Linked DNA regions of Homo sapiens: region 1 is linked to region 2. Evidence: fine-mapped expression QTL. A gene starts in region 2. The other region holds a variant in brackets. All regions are shown on one strand. Distances are between the middles of the regions.

Region 1 (8,391 bases), 49 kb after region 2:
AGTATGTCTGTAGGATTAATCTCCAGGTGTGTAATTGCTAATCAAAGGGTATATGCATGTTACTTTTTTTTGAGATGGAGTCTTGCTCTGTTGCCCAGGCTGGAGTGCAGTGGCGCTGTCTCATTGCAACATCCGCCTCCCAGGTTCAAGCGATTCTCCTCCCAAGTAGCTGGGATTATAGGCACCCGCTACCACACCTGGCTAATTTTTGTATTTTTAGTAGAGACGGGGGTTTCACCATGTTGGCCAGGCTGGTCTCCAACTCCTGACCTCAGGTGATCCACCTGCCTCAGCCTTGGCCTCTCAAAGTGTTGGGATTACAGGCGTGACCCACTGTGCCCCGCACATTTGTACTTTTGACTGGTCTTGCCAAATTGCCTTTGAGACGGAACCATGTCCTTGGTCAGGTCCTTTCTCATCTCTAAGCGTCCCCTGGAAAGTTGGGGAGATAATTTCTATTTCTCAGGGCCATTAGGAAGTGGAAACGAGATCGAGTTTGTCAATCGCTTAGTTTTGGGAGTGGGCGCAAAGTTACGGCTCCACCGGTAAAGCACAGTAGAAGGGCCCCAAGCAGTGTTTGTTCTCTTCCCCCATGCCTCTCTGCTGAGTGCCACTGGGGATTGTAGGAGTGGTGGGAGAGCGTGGGGATGATTACTGTTGGGAAATGCATGGCAGTGGCTGGAAGAGGGGGTCAGAAGCACAGACCTGCATTTACACTCACACTCTGGGATGAGGGACTTTCCTCCTCAGGGCGTCTGTCTCCCTGCCATGGGAGGCAGTGCATGTGTCAGCCATGGCCCTCGGCTGTAAGCCCAGAAACAGACCCCTGCAGAATTTGTAGCAAGGGAATGTGTGGGGAGGATGTCACCAGGCAGGAGGACAGCTGGGCCCTCGCATGGGCGGGATTGAGGCCACTGGATTCCCTAGGTAGGGAGCTCCCCAAATACAGGAAGAAGGTTAGAGGCAGGAAGAGCCTTTTCTACCCAGGAAACCTGACCAGTGCCACGCAGTGAATATACAGGGTCCTCACGCAAGGACCTGAGAGATGTGTGGGCAGCTGTGTGCAGTGTATACAGGGAGTCCAGGGGCTGGTGTGAGCCCTGCTCTTGAGGGGCCTCTGGATGCCCGCGGTGGGGTGCTGGGGCCTCCACGGGCGTCATTCTGTGGTTGCTCCAGGATTGGACTTAGAAATCTGGGTTTGACTACATATCAGGCTGCCCTGGGGCCCCTTTCAGTAAAGATACTCCCCTGAGAAATACCTGCCCTTGGGAAGCCCACTGCATTGGGCTTACATGACTGATCAGACTCTGATTCTGTGTGGAGCAGCCTGGGGAAGGGCTTGGAGGCGGGAGTGAGGATGGTCTCCACGTGGGCAGTGTAGACGTGTGGTTTTGCAGGGATAGAGACGTGCAGCAGCACATCCGCAGAGGTAGCGAGGCCTTGGGGGTGTGGGGTTCCCACAGAAAGCTCTGTGGGTACTCTTCTGCCTCCTCCTCCCTATTTCAGGCCCCAGGAGGCCTTGTGTGGTTCTGTCCCTCCCCTGCCCCCCAACTGAGGCCGTGGCATTGTGGGAGCAGAGGACGGAACTGGACACCTAGTGAAGGTGCGTAGAAGGCATTTGCCCCAGGCTGGCTCTGGGCTGAGCACACCCATTGGTGACCTCATCACGTGCACACCTTCGCTGCCTGAGTGCAGGGCACCCAAAAGCCTGCCATAGACAAGAAGGGACCTTCCCTGAGTTCACCCAGCTGGCCCTGTCTGAGTTGGGGACTCACACCTGTGCTGACTCCAGAGACCCACCCCAGCCCCACCTTCCTGTTCCTTCAGTCAACACATATTTATTGAGCACTTACTGTGTGCCCAGTAAAGACCCTTCTGGGGATATTTCAGTGAACAAAAGGGGTAAGAGTTCTCCCCTCATTATAGCATAAATGCACAGATCAGTACGCTTCCTGCTGGGTCATGAGAAGTGCCACCTAGAGAAGGAAGCAGGGATTCATAGTGATAAAGGGGCTGACTTTTTGGAGGGTGGCCAGGGAAGGCCTTTGAGGAGGTGACTTGGGAGTGAAGACCTGCAGGCAGGGAGGGAAGGAGCCGTTGGGGTGTGAGGAAGAGGGGTGCTCTGGGCAGGGGGTAACAGGTGCAAAGACCCTGAGGCACTGTGTCCAGATGGCTCTGCCACTGGCAAGGATCAGGACCTCAATGACTGTAGCAGCCCCTCCCCAGCACCCCCAAGTGAGGTCTGGCCATGCAGCTCTCCCATGTGCATGCTTTGCCTCCCGTGCTCCATAAGCAGGACCTTGACCCCTCCAGCCTCCTTGCTGACCCCTCTCGTCTCACACTCCAGGTCCCGATCTGTGCAGCTCACTGCCAGATGCATCAGGCAGCCTCCTGCACCTGCACTTTCTTCACAAAGTTCCCTCTGCCAGAGACGCCTTTTGCATCTTTGTCATCTCTGAGACTTTTCCAGATGCCTCCCGCTGCAGCTGATCCCAGCCTGGCCATCCTCCCCGCCTCCATGTCCCCTCCCTCCCTCCCTCCATCATAGCCTTGATGCTGTTCTGCCACTGCCCCTGGATTTGTCTCACTGATTGTGCAGAAGGCTCTGGGACAGAGCTGGCTTGTGGGGGATTGGGCCACTGCCTATTGGAGGCATTTGGGGGCTGTCCCAGGGGTGAGTGCACCCCAGGCTGGACCAGGTGCCCACACCTCTCCCGCCCAGCACTGGCACCTGTGAAGGGCCTCTGGAGGCTGGGTCTTCCTGCAGGCACCAGGAAGAAACCTACGAGCGCATCCTTGCTGAGGGCAGGACCCGCTCTCCACATCCTGGAAACCCAACAGAGAAAGACAGTCTCTCTGGCAGCCTCCCTGTCTTGAAGTTCGAGAAGGCTGCATTTCTAGGCTCCCACAACCTGTCTGTCCGGTTTGAAGCCGGGGCCTGAGGGCTTCAGGGTACTGATGCAGGACAGACAGCTCTGGTTCAAACCTCCCTCTGTCCGCTCCCACAGGTGTGGCCTCAGAAGACCATTCCCTCTGTAGCGTGGTAGAGGCTGGAAATTCTACTCTGCAGGATTATGATGCGGATTAAATGCAGTAATCGAGTGTTTGGCAGAGTGCCTGGTAGGGAAGGGGTTCAGTAAAGAGCTGCTCGCACCATTCTGTGCAGGGAATGCTTTAGGGCATGTTTTAGAATTTTAGAACGTGTTTCACTACATGAGTAGCTTCTTGCAGCTTTGAGGCCCTGGCATCCCTCTCCCCTGCCTGCAGGCTTCCTTGTTCACTGGGCCAAGTCCCCGCAGTAATCTTCCTAAGCATGGAGTAGACCGGGCCCTTCCTGGCCAGAACATCCCCATCTACCTTCAGGGTCTACTGCAGTGGCCAGATGTGAGCTTCTCCTCTGTCCGCTCACTCACCTTCTCTGTGCCTGTCTTGGCCCCTTCTCTGTGCCTGGCTGGCCCCATGTGGAGCAATGTTGGGGTAACAGTGTGGACCACAGACCACCCCATGCTGTCTTCCTAGGACTCATAGTCCAGTGGGGGAGACACACAGGTCTCCAGATGGTGACAACTCAGAGGGGACAGGGCTGAGACGGGGAGCCCAGAGGGTGGGGCCTGACCTACCGTGGGGATCAGGGAGGGCTTCCTGGAGAAGGCATCCCTAAGCTGAGAATTGAAGAAGTAGTAAGCAGTGAGAGCATGTACCGTGTAATGTGTAAAGGGGAGGGAGAATGTGAGGTGCTGGGAAGCACCGGGCCCTTCGGGGGACGGGAAGAATTTGGGTGTGGCCAGAGCACAGTGCCCCATGAGTGGAGAGGTCCAGATTGTCTATTTTTCTTTTCTTTTTTTTCCCCCAATGATCCTAGAAATTCTCCCAAGAGAGGTCCAGATTTTTTGACAAGGCTGAAGGGCGGCCCCTGAGACCTGACTCTACCTGTCTGCCTGGCCTTTCCTCAGTCCAGTGCGTGCACGGCCCCCTCCTCGCTCTCACGCATCATCTGTGTGCTCCTTCCCTGCCAGACAAGAACCCCTGGAGGGCAGGGACCAGTTCAGAGCCATCCCTGTCTCCCCAGTGCCAGCACAGAGCTTGGCCTGAGTAGGTTTTGGGGACTGGGCTTGGTGGCTCACACCTGTAATCCCAACATTTTGGGAGGCTGGGGCAGGAGGATCACCTGAGCCCAGGAGTTCAAGACCAACCTGTACAACATACTGAGACCCGGTCTCTACATAAAAAAAGAAAAAAAAAAAAAACTGGCCAAGCATGGTAGGGTGTGCCTGTAGTCTCAGCTACTTGGGAGGTTGAGGTGGGAGGGTCACTTGAGCCCAGGAGTGCAAGGCTGCAGTGAGCTATGATTGAGCCGCTGAACTCCAGCCTGGGTGACAGATGGGGACCCCCCAAAAAATAGGTTTTGGGAAATGTTTACCAGATGAGAGGCAAGACGGAATTCTCCTAAATTCGAAGCTTGGAATTCTCCTAAATTCGAAGCCTGAGGCAGAATGGTTGAAGCAAAAAGAGGAGATTTGTTGTCTTATGGGTCTGAAGGGTCCTGAATAGTGTGGTGTCAGGCACAGTATCTCTTTATCAAACAATATCTCTTTAATCTCTGAGCTTGGCCGGGCACAGTGGCTCACGTCTGTAATCCCAGCACTTTGGGAGGCCGAGGCGGGCGGATCATTAGGTCAAGAGCTGGAGACCATCCTGGCCAACATGGTGAAACCCCGTCTCTACTAAAAATA[C/T]AAAAATTAGCCGGGTGTGGTGGCGCGTGCCTGTAGTCCCAGCTACTCAGGAGGCTGAGGCAGGAGAATTGCTTGAACCTGGGAGGCAGAGGTTGCAGTGAGCCAAGATCACACCACTGCACTCCAGCCTGGCGACAGCGAGACTCCATCTAAAAAATAAAATATCTGAGCTTGGCTTTCCTCTGAGCTGGCTTCATTCGCGGAAGGCTGTTCCCTCCTGATGGGTGCAGGGATGGCTGCCAGTAGCTCTAGAAATGGGATGCAGTCTTAACCACCCTAGTGGGAAGAGAGCTCCTCTTTCCTGAGAGTTCCATCTCAGGGCGTAGGACCGGCTGTGGCTGGCTCTGTAACCTTCCTGTCCCTGACCGATCATTGTAACAGAGGTTGTGGGACGGGGCACCTATCCACTCCTAGAACCTTTGGGGAGGACAGCGGGGAGTCAAGGTAAAGTGAAGAGGCCTATCCAGGCTCCTGGGGTGAGAGAGATTGGGTGACCAAGGCTGGTCCACCCAGGGGAAGACAGGAAGAGAAGTGGGCCATTCTGGCCTCAGACCTCTTCGTCCTTTCCCAGACCCCACGCCAAGGCAGAGCTCCCTGTGGGATGAGTTTCTCACTTGACCTGAAATCTCTACTTGTGGGGCTGCTGCAAGTGCACAGGCTTCAGGAAAGGTGGACCACACCCCCTGTGCCCCAGGCTCCTTCCCGAGGGTGTGCAGCCCACCATCCAGATAGGGGTGGATGGTGCCCAAGTCGTGGGGGCTGACAAGCATGGAGAGTCCTGCAGAGAGGCCCAGCACCGGATTCCCAGGCTGCTCCTTGAGACGCTGTCCCACATGGGCCGGTCACTCACCTGCCATGAGACTCCCAACTGGGACCTTCCCTGCAGAGCCTGTGAGGTGGAACGATGGTGATGGTGCCCCCTTGTGGGGTAGGTGCATGTGGCAGGCACAGAGTGGTGGCAGCAACTGTAACATACGGTTCTGGAGGGCAGGGACAGGGGCCCTTCCTGTGTGCCTTGTGGTGCTGAGTGCCAGGCTGGGTGAGCTCACCAAGCCCTCCCTGGGAAGGTGCTGTTGATGCAGCAGGGAGGCCCAGGGCAGTCACTGCTCTGTGCTGTTGGCGACGGAGCAGGGATTGGAACCCAGGCGCCTGGCTTCGAGGCCCGCATGCTGTGGGGAAATGGGGCTCTGCCATGTTGGTGGTTATTTATTGTCGTGAACAAGAGCTCAGGCCTGGTTTCCAGGTGTGACTTTATTGCACCCTCGCCCTACCTCCCCGGCTTGAGAATTCTGGAAAATACCACAATAAGTGTTTCTTTTCTCTTTTGAGATTATGTAAATAATACTTGCCTCCATGCTCTTAAAAGAAAATGACATCTCTATTTCCATGTGTTGCGGTGTTTCCTGGTTTGGGACCCCACCAGCTATCCAGTCACCCAGGCTTGAAGCCAGGTTCTTCCCAGCTTCTCTCTCCACCCTGCCCATCCCTGTGCATGTAGCAGTGACCAGGTCCTATCGATTATCTGATTATCTGCCGGAAGCCTCAGGAATGGGAGCCTTCTGAGTCAGCACATCACCAGGAGCACGGCCTGTGGCCAGGCTGCTCAGGGGCTGGTGATGTTGGTTTCTTTCACCTTAATGTGTGAGTTGTGTAGTAATACGGTCCTATATCACTTAATGATGACACATTCTGAGAACTGCGTCGTTAGGTGATTTCATGGTCATGTGAACATCCTAGTGGACTTACACAAACCTAGGCCTGGTCAGGCCTGGTGGCTCACACCTGTAATCCCAGCACTGTGGGAGTTCTAGATGGGCGGATCACCTGAGGTCAGGAGTTTGAGACCAGCCTGACCAACCTGGTGAAACCCCATCTCTATTAAAAATACAAAATTAGCCTGGCGTGGTGGCGTGTGCCTGTAATCTCAGCTACTCGGAAGGCTGAGGCAGGAGGAGAATCGTTTGAACCTGGGAGGTGGAGGTTGCAGTAAGCTGAGATCATGCTATTACACTCCAGCCTGGGCAAGAAGAGTAAAACTCCATCTCAAAAAAAAAAAAAAAAAAAAAAAACCCTAGGTGGCATGCCTACTGCACACCTGGGCTACCTGGAATAGTCTAGTGCTCTTGGGCTCCACACCTGCACAGCATGTGGCTGTGCTGAGTACCCTCGGCAAGTGTAACACAGTGGTAGGTATTTGTGTATATGAACGTAGACAAGGGACAGTAAAAATATAGTGGGAAATCTTATGGGACCACCGGCTGCATATGCAGTCCATCATTGACTGAAATGGCTTTATGCGGCTTATGACTAGACCTGTATGTGCCTCAGTATTCAAAAGATGTAAAAAGGTGGACAGAGATTCAACATAAAGAAATGATCAATGTTTGGGCCGGGCGCGGTGGCTCACGCTTGTAATCCCAGCACTGTGGGAGGCCGAGGTGGGTGGATCATGAGGTCAGGAGATAGAGACCATCCTGACTAACACAGTGAAACCCTGTCTCTACTAAAAATACAAAAATTAGCCAGGTGTGGTGGCACATGCCTGTAGTTCCATCTACTAGGGAGGCTGAGGCAGGAGAATCCCTTGAACCCGGGAGGCAGAGGTTGCAGTGAGCCGAGATCGTGCCACTACACTCCAGCCTGGGCAACAGAGCGAGACTCCATCTCAAAAAAAAAAAAAAAAAAAGATAAATGTTTGAGGTGATATGCTAATTACCCTGACTCAATCCTTGTATGCATTTATCGAAATACCACATGTACCCCATAAATATGTATAATAATTATGTATTAATAAAATTAAACATTTTAAAAAATGTATATAGAGAGAAGGAAGTTTCTCTCTCCCTGTCCTCCTTTGGCTTTGCCAGCTCACCTTCCTAAAAGCAGTCACCTAGTTTATTGTATGTCCTTCTGGAAGGATCTCTGATGGAGCTTAGCTAATGACAATCCACAGCAGCCACAGCCCAGGCCAGCCGACAGAGTTTGTAAATAAAGTTTTATTTGCACATGTCCAGGCTCATTTGTTTATATACTATCTATTACTCTTTTCATGCTACAAGGCAGAGTTGAGTAGTTGCTGCAGAGCCTAGTCTGATCATTTAAGCAAAATATTGTGATGCCTGCAGCTGTGTGTGTTTAAAGTCAAGGCAGGGTGGTAGAGGCAGCGGCAGCAGCAGGCCCAGAGGCAGCGGTTGGGTTTGCAGCGAGAAGACAAGGTTGAGTCAGTGTGTTTGCGAGAGCTGGAATCGAAGCCTCTTAAAATGGCAGATGATTTGGACTTCGAGACAAGAGATGCAGGGGCCTCGGCCTCCTTCCCAATGCAGTGCTCAGCATTATGTAACACTGGCTTCGTGGTGCTCAAAGGCTGGCCCTGTAAGGTCTTTGAGATGTCTGCTTGGAAGACTGGCAAGCACAGCCGCGTCAAGGTCCACCTGGTTGGTATTGACATCTTTACTGGGAAGAAATATAAAAATAACTGCCTGTCACCTTATAATGTGGGTGTCCCCAGCATCAAAAGGAATGACTCCCAGTTGATTGGCATCCAGGAAGGTACCCCTCACTGCTCCAGGACAGCAGGGAGGTGCGAGAGGACCTTCTTCGTCTGCCAGAGGAGACCTTGGCAAGGAGATGAGCAAAAGTACCGCTGTGGAGAAGGGAC
Region 2 (8,206 bases):
TCGCCCGCACTAGGAACTGGGAGCGCAGCTTTCTGTGCCAGTCCTGCTGCGCCCCAGGCACTGGGGGCTGGCCGTTCCCTCACCCCCTCACTCCAAACCGGTCTGTCCAGCCGTCCACCCCACGGAGGGGAAGCCTCCTGCCCCACCTCATGCACCCCAAGAAAGCCAGAGTCCAGACGGGTGTAAATAAAAGGGAAAATTTACTTGGAGAAGGCGGGCAAAAACGAGGAGGTCAATGGGTGTTGGCAGCGGTACCAGGGACAGTGAGGGGGGCTTTCCTGGGCTCAGGCCTCGCCGGCCGCCTCAGGGTGCTTCTGCCGCAGGTGTTTGTCCAGGGTGGCTCGCAGGCCGAAGGGCACATGGCAGTGGGGGCACTCGAAGCGGGTGCTGCCAGGCGTCATGCCGTGCATGCGGCGGTGGCGGTTGAGCTTACTGCTCTGGGCGCAGGCGTAGTTGCAGAACTCACAGGTGTAGGGGCGCTCCCCGGTGTGTGAGCGCCGGTGCACCGTCAGGTTGCTGCTGTTGGTAAAATGCTTCCCGCAGAACTCACAGCTGCCCCCGGGCCCGCGGCTCTTGCCCCCTGACTTGGGCATCTTTTTGGGTGATGCCTTCTGGCTGTTTGCAGGGTCAGTTCTTTGTTCCGTGGTGATGGCTCCCCAAGTGTCTCCACCAGGGCCGGCTTGAGCCCCACTGCCAGGAGCCCCGGGTTCCTGGACACCTGCTGTGGCGGCGGCTCCAGCCCCCTCACCACCGCTGCATGGAAGGGTGCTGGTGGGGGCAGCAGCATGGACAGCCGGCTCCGGAGGGGCTGCAGAGGCCTGCTCCTGGCTGGTGTCGGCCATGAGGGGGCTCTGGGGCGGCACCTGCCGGTGGGTCTTCTTGTGGCGGTTGAGCTTGCTGCTCTGGGCGCAGGCGTAGGGACACTGGTCGCAAGCATAGGGCCGCTCGCCTGTGTGTGAGCGCATGTGCACTTTGAGGTTGCTGAAGGAGCTGAGGGTCTTCTTGCACACAGGACAGGTGGGGCTCCGCCGGGTGAGGCCGCTGCCACTTGCACGGGGGCTCTTGGCCTCAGCTGCTGGCCCCACCACTGCCGACACGGCTGCAGCCACCTCGGCCAGGCCCAGGAGCGGGGCCTCCGGGGCCTCTGATTCTGTCTGGTAGATGGACAGTCCGTGGTCCCACTGGGCGTGACGCAGCAGCTTCCAGGCCACTGTGAACTGTTTGCCACAGCGCAGGCAGCTCAAGGCCTTCAGCTCCTCTCGTTCTGGTAAGAAAAAGAGGCAGAGTGTTAGTGCGGACAGCTGCCAGCTGGACACCTTCTGTGGGATAGGCACTCCTGCAGGGGCAAAGGACTTGGCAGTAACAAGACACACACACCCTGGAAGGACCAGGAAGCTGACGCTCAGAGGAGGGGTGGACACGAAAAATCTGTGGAGTGGGTGCTAAGTACCTGAAAACATTTTTTTTTAGACAGTCTCACTGTCGCCCAGGCTGGGGTGCAGTGGCACGATCTCAGCTCACTGCAACCTCCACCTCCTGGATTCAAGCTATTCTCATGCCTCAGCCTCTAGAGTAGCTGGGATTACAGGCGCCCGCCACCATGCCTGGCTAATTAGTAGAGATGGGGGTTTCACCGTGTTGGCCAGGCTGGTCTCGAACTCTTGGCCTCAAGTGATCCACCCACCTCGGCCTCCCAAAGTGCTGGGATTATAGGCATGAGCCACTGTGCTGGGCCATGTGTTTGAAAATCTTTTAAAAAGTTATGTTAACTCAGTAAGCGCTTCCTACATGCTAGGTGCTGAGCCATGGCTCATAGCCCGGCTTTCCCTCAGGACAGGAAAATAAGATCTCCATTTTCCAGACAGGAGAACTGAGGCACAGAGAGGCATTTCCCCAGGGTTGCACAGCTTGGAAGGGGTGAAGCTGGGATTTCAATCCAGACTACTGGGGGAGGGGGAGAGGGCAGAACAGAGGCTTGCTTGCTTTTTTTTTTTTGCTTTAAATTTTTAATTTAGTATTTTTTAAAGAGATGGGGTCCTGCTATGTTGCCCAGGCTATTTTTTTTTTTTTTTGAGACGGAGCCTTGCTCTGTCGCCCAGGCTGCAGTGCAGTGGCGCGATCTCGGCTCACTGCAAGCTCTGCCTCCGGGGTTCACGCCATTCTCCTGCCTCAGCCACCACGCCACAGGGTTTCACCGTGTTAGCCAGGATGGTCGCGATCTCCTGACCTCATGATCTGCCCGCCTCAGCCTCCCAAAGTGCTGGGATTACAGGTTTGAGCCACCGCACCCGGCCGCCCAGGCTATTCTTTAACTTAATGGCCTCAAGTAATCCTTCCGCCTCAGCCCCTCAAAGTGCTGGGATTATAGGCGTGAGCCACCATACCTGGCTGGGAGCAGAGGCTTTTGAATAAGATTTTTGGTTTAGGCCGGGCACGGTGGCTCACACCTGTCATCCCAGCACTTTGGGAGGCTGAGGCGGGTTGATCTCTTGAGGTCAGGGATTTGAGACCAGCCTGGCCAACATGATGAAACCCTGTCTCTAGTAAAAATAAAAAATAGCCGGGTGTGGTGGTGCGCGCCTGTAATCCCGGCCACTTGGGAGGTTAAGGCAGGAGAATCGCTTGAACCCAGGAGGCGGAGGTTGCAGTGAGCCGAGATCCCACCACTGCACTCCAGCCTGGGTGACAAAAGCGAGACTCTGTTTCAAAAAAAAAAATTTTTTTTGGTTTAATAAAAATAATTTTTAAAGTAATTGAGATATCTGGGCATGGTGGCTCATGCCTGTAATCCCAGCACTTCAGGAGGCCAAGGCAGGTGGACCACCTGAGGTCAGGAGTTTGAGACACCAGCCTGGTCAACATGGTGAAACCCTGTCTCTACCAAAAATACAAAAATTAGCTGGCCATGGTGGTGCACGCCTGTAGTCCCAGCTACTTGGAGGGCTGAGGCAGGAGAATCACTTGAACCTGGGAGGCGGAGGTTGCAGTGAGCTGAGATTGCACCACAGCACTCCAGCCTGGGTGACAGAGTAAGACTCCACCTCAAAATAATGGGGTAGCTACAGAGAAAGCTTAGCGGCCACCTAGTAAAGAGGTGGTAGTGACCTGGGTCCCCCACCCTCTGCATGGATCTCAAATTGAGCCCCCAAACCTGAATTTGGATTTCTATCTGGACCTTCGGGGTACTCTCAGTGGACACTTCCTAGGTGAACTAGCCTTTCCATTTTTCAAATTCTAGAGTCTTGGATGGGACAACCTTTGTGATACAACCAGTCCTGGGTCAAGAGCACAGGCCTGCATTCAAATTCAGACTTCTCTGCTCCCTAATTGTGTGACCTTGGGCAAGACATAGTCCTCTGTGTGCCTCAGTTGCTAGAATTCAGGGACCCTAGAGATCCCCTCCCTTTCAAGGGTGGTTGTGACCTCGCTTGGGGAATGGTTGAGAGCTTTGGTCCACATAAGCGCTCAAACAGCAGAGCCTGTGAAACCAAGGTGCCCATGATTCTCCAAGCCCTGTAGTGTTTTGTTCCAGCGATTCCATCACAGCCCCTCGCTCGCTCCTCCAGGCCACTCTCCATGCTCCAGCTCTAAAGCTGATTCAATCAGTCACAAGCCCCTCCTCTTTCCCACCACCAGACCCTCCCTGGCCCAACCCTAAATAATTCCACTTCTCAAAAGTCTCAGAAGGGCAAGGGCCAGGGGGCTGGAAACTAGGTTTGGATTAAGCCCTGCAGCCAACACTGACCAAAAGCTCACCGAGGGTCAAGCCCCATGTGAAGGCTTTTAATTCCCTCCCAAGAGAAGGAACCCGGGTGTCCAGCACCCGGGAGCTCGCTCAAACCAGGGGATTCCCAGCACGCGGGGCTGGGAGATTCCATCACCGAGGGAAGCCAGAAGCCCCTTCCTTGGCTCTGAACACTCAGCTGTACTAGCACCTCAATCAGAATTGACAGAGAGAGACAGGAGGGGGTGGCAACCTCCCCATTCCAGCTGGCCTCCACTCCCCCTCCCCCCGGCCGCTGCCCTCCCTAGAGGTCCCCTCCTACTGCCACCCTGGTCCAGCCACCTGGCCAGTTATTTCTGGCCAAGGGGAAGGAGAAGTGAAACCAGGTTGGGGTGTGTGTTGGGGGGGGCAAAATCCCGGGCTAGTCTTCTGGGGCTGGCCACACCCTGTAGGCGGCCCTCCTTCCCTGCCCAGTCCCCCCCCGCCCCCCCTCCACCGCCACCACTGGTCCCTGCCCTAGGACGGGCAGGCCCTGGCCACGCCTAGGCTGCACCCGATGGGGAGCGAGAAAGGGGAAGTAGTGCTCAGTGCCCTGCCGTCCAGCCCAGCCCCTTTCCAGCAGGAAGCCCAGCCCTCGAACTTGAGAGGGGGACTGCACCCGGCTTTACTCACCTGAGCCCTGGCCGCGGCTGGGGCCTCTGAAGAGCTGACAGCCCAGCTTCTTGTGGTCCATGAAGGCAGTGATGGCCTCCAACGGGAAGGTCTGCAGGCAGCGGCCGCAGGTCAACAGATCTGGGTGTTTGTCGGTCCAGGGCTGGCGGTCTGCAGGGAGGAAGCGGGTGGTGAGCGTGGGGTGGGGCCAGGATGGGGGCTGAGGGTGCTGAAGGAGAGGGGAAACCGAAGGTCAGAAGGGGGCCTGAGGGGCAGGACGGGGCGAAGGAGATAAGGCAGGGCGAGGGGCCCATGCCCAAAGGGAAGGGTCCCACCCGAGGGTCAAAGGTAAGGGAGGCTGGGCCCAGGGCCCGGGGTGCTCACCGGGATAGTTCGGGGTCAACGGCGTCCACAGGGTCCACGGGTTCCGCGGGCCGAGGGCGAGGAGGGCGGCCCCGGCGGGCATGGGGCCAGGGGAGTGGTGGGGTTCGCCGCCGAACCGCCCCGCCGAGGACACCTCCTTCGGGGAGAAGGGCCCCAGCCTTGGGGCCTGTTGGGGCTGCGCGTCTGGCTCGGGCTTGAGTTCGATGACGAGGTCCTGCATTTCCATCTCGTCGTCTGGGTTGGCGGCGGGCGCGGGCTCTACTCGGCGGGGCGCGCTGCCGGCCTTGCGGCGGGACATGAGTCGCGGGCCGGGCGAGCGAGCGGGCGGGCAGGCAGGCAGGCGGGCGGGCGGAGGACGCACGAGCGGAGGACGCGCGGACCGTGCGCGCTCAGGTGAGTGACTGCGGCGACCCGCCGCGAACTCTTACACGTGCTGGCCGGGCCCGTGGCTCCGCCTACCAGGGCGGGGCTCATGGGAGGGGACCGAGCCGCCCTGCTGGGGCCCTGACGGCGGCCTAACTCAATCTAGGCAGTGTCCCGTGCGTTTGGCTTAGTGACCAAATTTAATCACACCGAGTTCCCACAAGGCATTGAAACAGCTATCCCTGATCCCGTTTTAGGGCGGGTGAAACTGAGACACGGCATGCCCACACGCACCCCCAAGCGAGAAAAATAGTCGGTCACGTTTCTTATTAGGTGCCTGATAGTAATCTGGGCTATTTCATTAAATGCATTACAATAAAAATTCATTTTGCAAGCATTCACTGAGTGCCTCCTGTGCGCCAGGCTCTGTTTGAAGCCCTGAGAATACAGGAGGGAATAAACAGAAGATAATCTTTGTTTGCACGGAGTTCAGACGGTGGGGGAAGACACTATAAACATAATTACGTAAAATATAGATGGCCCTTCATGATGACCAGTGCCATGGAGCAAAAGAAAGCTGGAAAGGCGGAGAGGGTTACTGGGGTTGAGGGATTCAATTTTCTCCCCTATGATGGGAAAGGGCATGGTGGAGCTGAGGCTGGAGGGAAGGAAGCCCAGCCAGTGGGCCTGGGCATTGAGGAATTACAAGGAAAGGGAGAGGCAATACGGGTTGGGGATTGAGTTCAGTGAAAATATGGGGGCAGATCCAAGCAATCTTTTGATCGCTTTAAGGTCTTTTGGTTTTCCTGAGACCGGAGCCTTAGGAGGGTTTTGAGCAGAGGAGGACTGTAATCATACACATCGACTCTGTTCCTAGACCAGAAGTCGCCATTAAAACCAAATAGCCAAGCAGCTCACCTGCCTCCACTCCGCCTCCTTGAACTTCCCTCCCCTAAGCAGTTCTGTCTGCTCACTGTTTGAAGTGGCATCGACACCCTGCCCCACCCTCAATCCCTGATGAGTATTCTTTTCTTCCTGGCACCGACTGCACGACAGTATAGAACGGCTTGTGGACTGTCCTCTCCCCCACCCAATGCAAGCCCCCTGAGGTCAGGGCAAGAACCTGTCCTCCCCCAGCTGTCCTCAGCCCAGATGCTGATTTCAGATGCTGATCTCTTGGAGTTCTGCACATTGTTATTCAGGTCTGGGTTCCATTGTCCTCCTGAGAGCAGAGGGCCCTGACCAACAGTATCTAAAGTAGCCCCACCCTGCTGAAGGCCTTGCAAATTACACTCCATGACCTCCATCTGTCCCCAGTTCCCTCTTGGATCTCACTTTCTCCATCTGTCAAAGGAGGTAGGGCAGGTTGGAACTAGAGGGTTATCTGAGGTGGTTTCTTCTTCACTGCCGCCTCCTCTGATCACCCTTTTTTTTTTTGTAATTTTTAATTTTTCAAAAAAAATTATTTTTAAATAGAGACAGGGACTCGCTTTGTTGCCCTGGTTGGTCTGAAACTCTTGGCTTGAAGCGCTCCTCCTGCTTCAGCATCCCAAAGTGCTGAGATTACAGGTGTGAGACACTGCACTCAGCCTCAGACCACCCAATTTTAAGTTCCATGGCAACCCAGCCACCCACTATCCCATTGCCCTTATTTTACTCTTTTTTTTTTTTTTTTTTTTTGAGATGGAGTTTCACTCTTGTTGCCCAGGCTGGAGTGCAGTGGCACGACCTCAGCTCACTGCAACCTCCGCCTCCCGGGTTCAAGTGATTCTCCTGCCTGAGCCTCCGGAGTAGCTGGGATTACAGATGCCCGGCTAATTTTTCTATTTTTAGTAGAGACAGGGTTTCACCATGTTGGCCAGGCTGGTCTCGAACTCCTGACCTCAGGTGATCCACCCGCCTCAGCCTCCCAAAGTGCTGGAATTACAGGCGTGAGCCACCGTGCCCGGCCTATTTTATTCTTTATACATCACTTTGATCAAACCCTGAAGGATCTTGTTTACATATTTGCTCATTTTACCCTATTCTGTCCCTTCTACCCCCACTAGAACGTAGGTTCTAGGAGGCAGGATGGGAGTCTGTCTTGTTCATAAATACAACCCCTACTCGTTCATAGTTAAGTCAACAAATATTTATTGCGCACCTACTATGTGTCTGATGATATTCTTTCAACAGATATTTGCAGAGCACCAAATTGTGTACCTGGCACTAGGCCTTGGTGATCTAGTGGAAAGCAAAGGCCCACAGGATCCCTGCGTAAAGAGGACCCCGCAAGGAGAAAGTGAATTCTGACTGGGCCTGGAATAGGGAGGTTCATATTCCCCATTCAAGGCCTCAGTTTCCCCCTTTGTAAAATGGGACTGCAGGGAGAGCTGGAGGACAAAATGACCGCCTCTGATCCAGCCCAGCTACTTTCTTAGTATGCGGCATCTGAAACCATGATCTCCAGGTTTCCTGTAGAGGAGCGGGGGTTCCCACTGGAAGCAAGGGGTTAGGAGTGGGTATGTGTAGGGGGATGGGGATGCAAAGACCGAGCTCTGCCCTTAACCCAGCAGGGAGGAAGTCTTCCCCTCTCTGAACCTCAGTTTCTTCCTGCCTAAAATGGGCATCCCAGACGCCCCCAACTCGCAGGCAGGAAGATCGGTCCCAAGTGCCCCGCAAAGCCGCGGGCCAGGTGGCGACCCGGGCTGTGCTGGCTTCCAAGCCTGCGAGCCAGCCCGCGACCACGTGGGGCAGTGGCGGCGGCGCGGGCGGAACCCAGGCTCCGCGGCTTGCGGCCTGCCCGGGCCTCTGCAGCGGGGGCGCCGGCGGAAGTGGGGACACCAGTAGCCGCGGACCTCGGTGAGTACAAGGTGGTGGGGGGTCGCCAGCAGGTTCCCTCTCCCCGGCCCCAGCTCTGGACGCTCACCCCAGTGCAACGCCCTGAGTGACGGAAAGAGGTAGGACCGCGCCTGCAGCGCCGGCTGGAGGGACGTTCTGGTCCCCAGACGCTCCTATCAGGGACTGTTTGATCCCGATCGCCGGCAGCGGGAATGCCCCACGCGGGTGGGGTGAGGAGAAGGGAGAAGGAGAAAAACTTCCCCT

What was found.
Region 1: its variant is fine-mapped to the expression of ZNF296 in putamen (GTEx, PIP above 0.99). The same link has a PIP of 0.9 or more in nucleus accumbens.

The regions. Positions count from the first base shown.
Region 1 is chr19:45,120,575-45,128,965 of GRCh38, forward strand. All of the region lies in intron 1 of PPP1R37 (protein phosphatase 1 regulatory subunit 37), which reads left to right. It also overlaps the pseudogene EIF5AP3. Among named protein-coding and RNA genes, the nearest start is that of PPP1R37, 32 kb to the left of the region's middle. RefSeq lists enhancers at 1,334-1,523, 5,431-5,570. The variant C/T (reference allele first, on the strand shown) is at 4,734.
Region 2 is chr19:45,071,317-45,079,522 of GRCh38, forward strand. ZNF296 (zinc finger protein 296) reads right to left here and starts at 5,162. Exons shown (of 3, transcript NM_145288.3): 1 at 4,760-5,162; 2 at 4,397-4,546; 3 at 184-1,264. The coding sequence starts at 5,057. The coding sequence ends at 285. It overlaps GEMIN7 (gem nuclear organelle associated protein 7), which reads left to right and starts at 7,944. Exons shown (of 3, transcript NM_024707.3): 1 at 7,944-8,061. RefSeq lists silencers at 3,979-4,288, 4,619-4,858, 4,949-5,358, 7,762-8,021 and an enhancer at 8,191-8,206.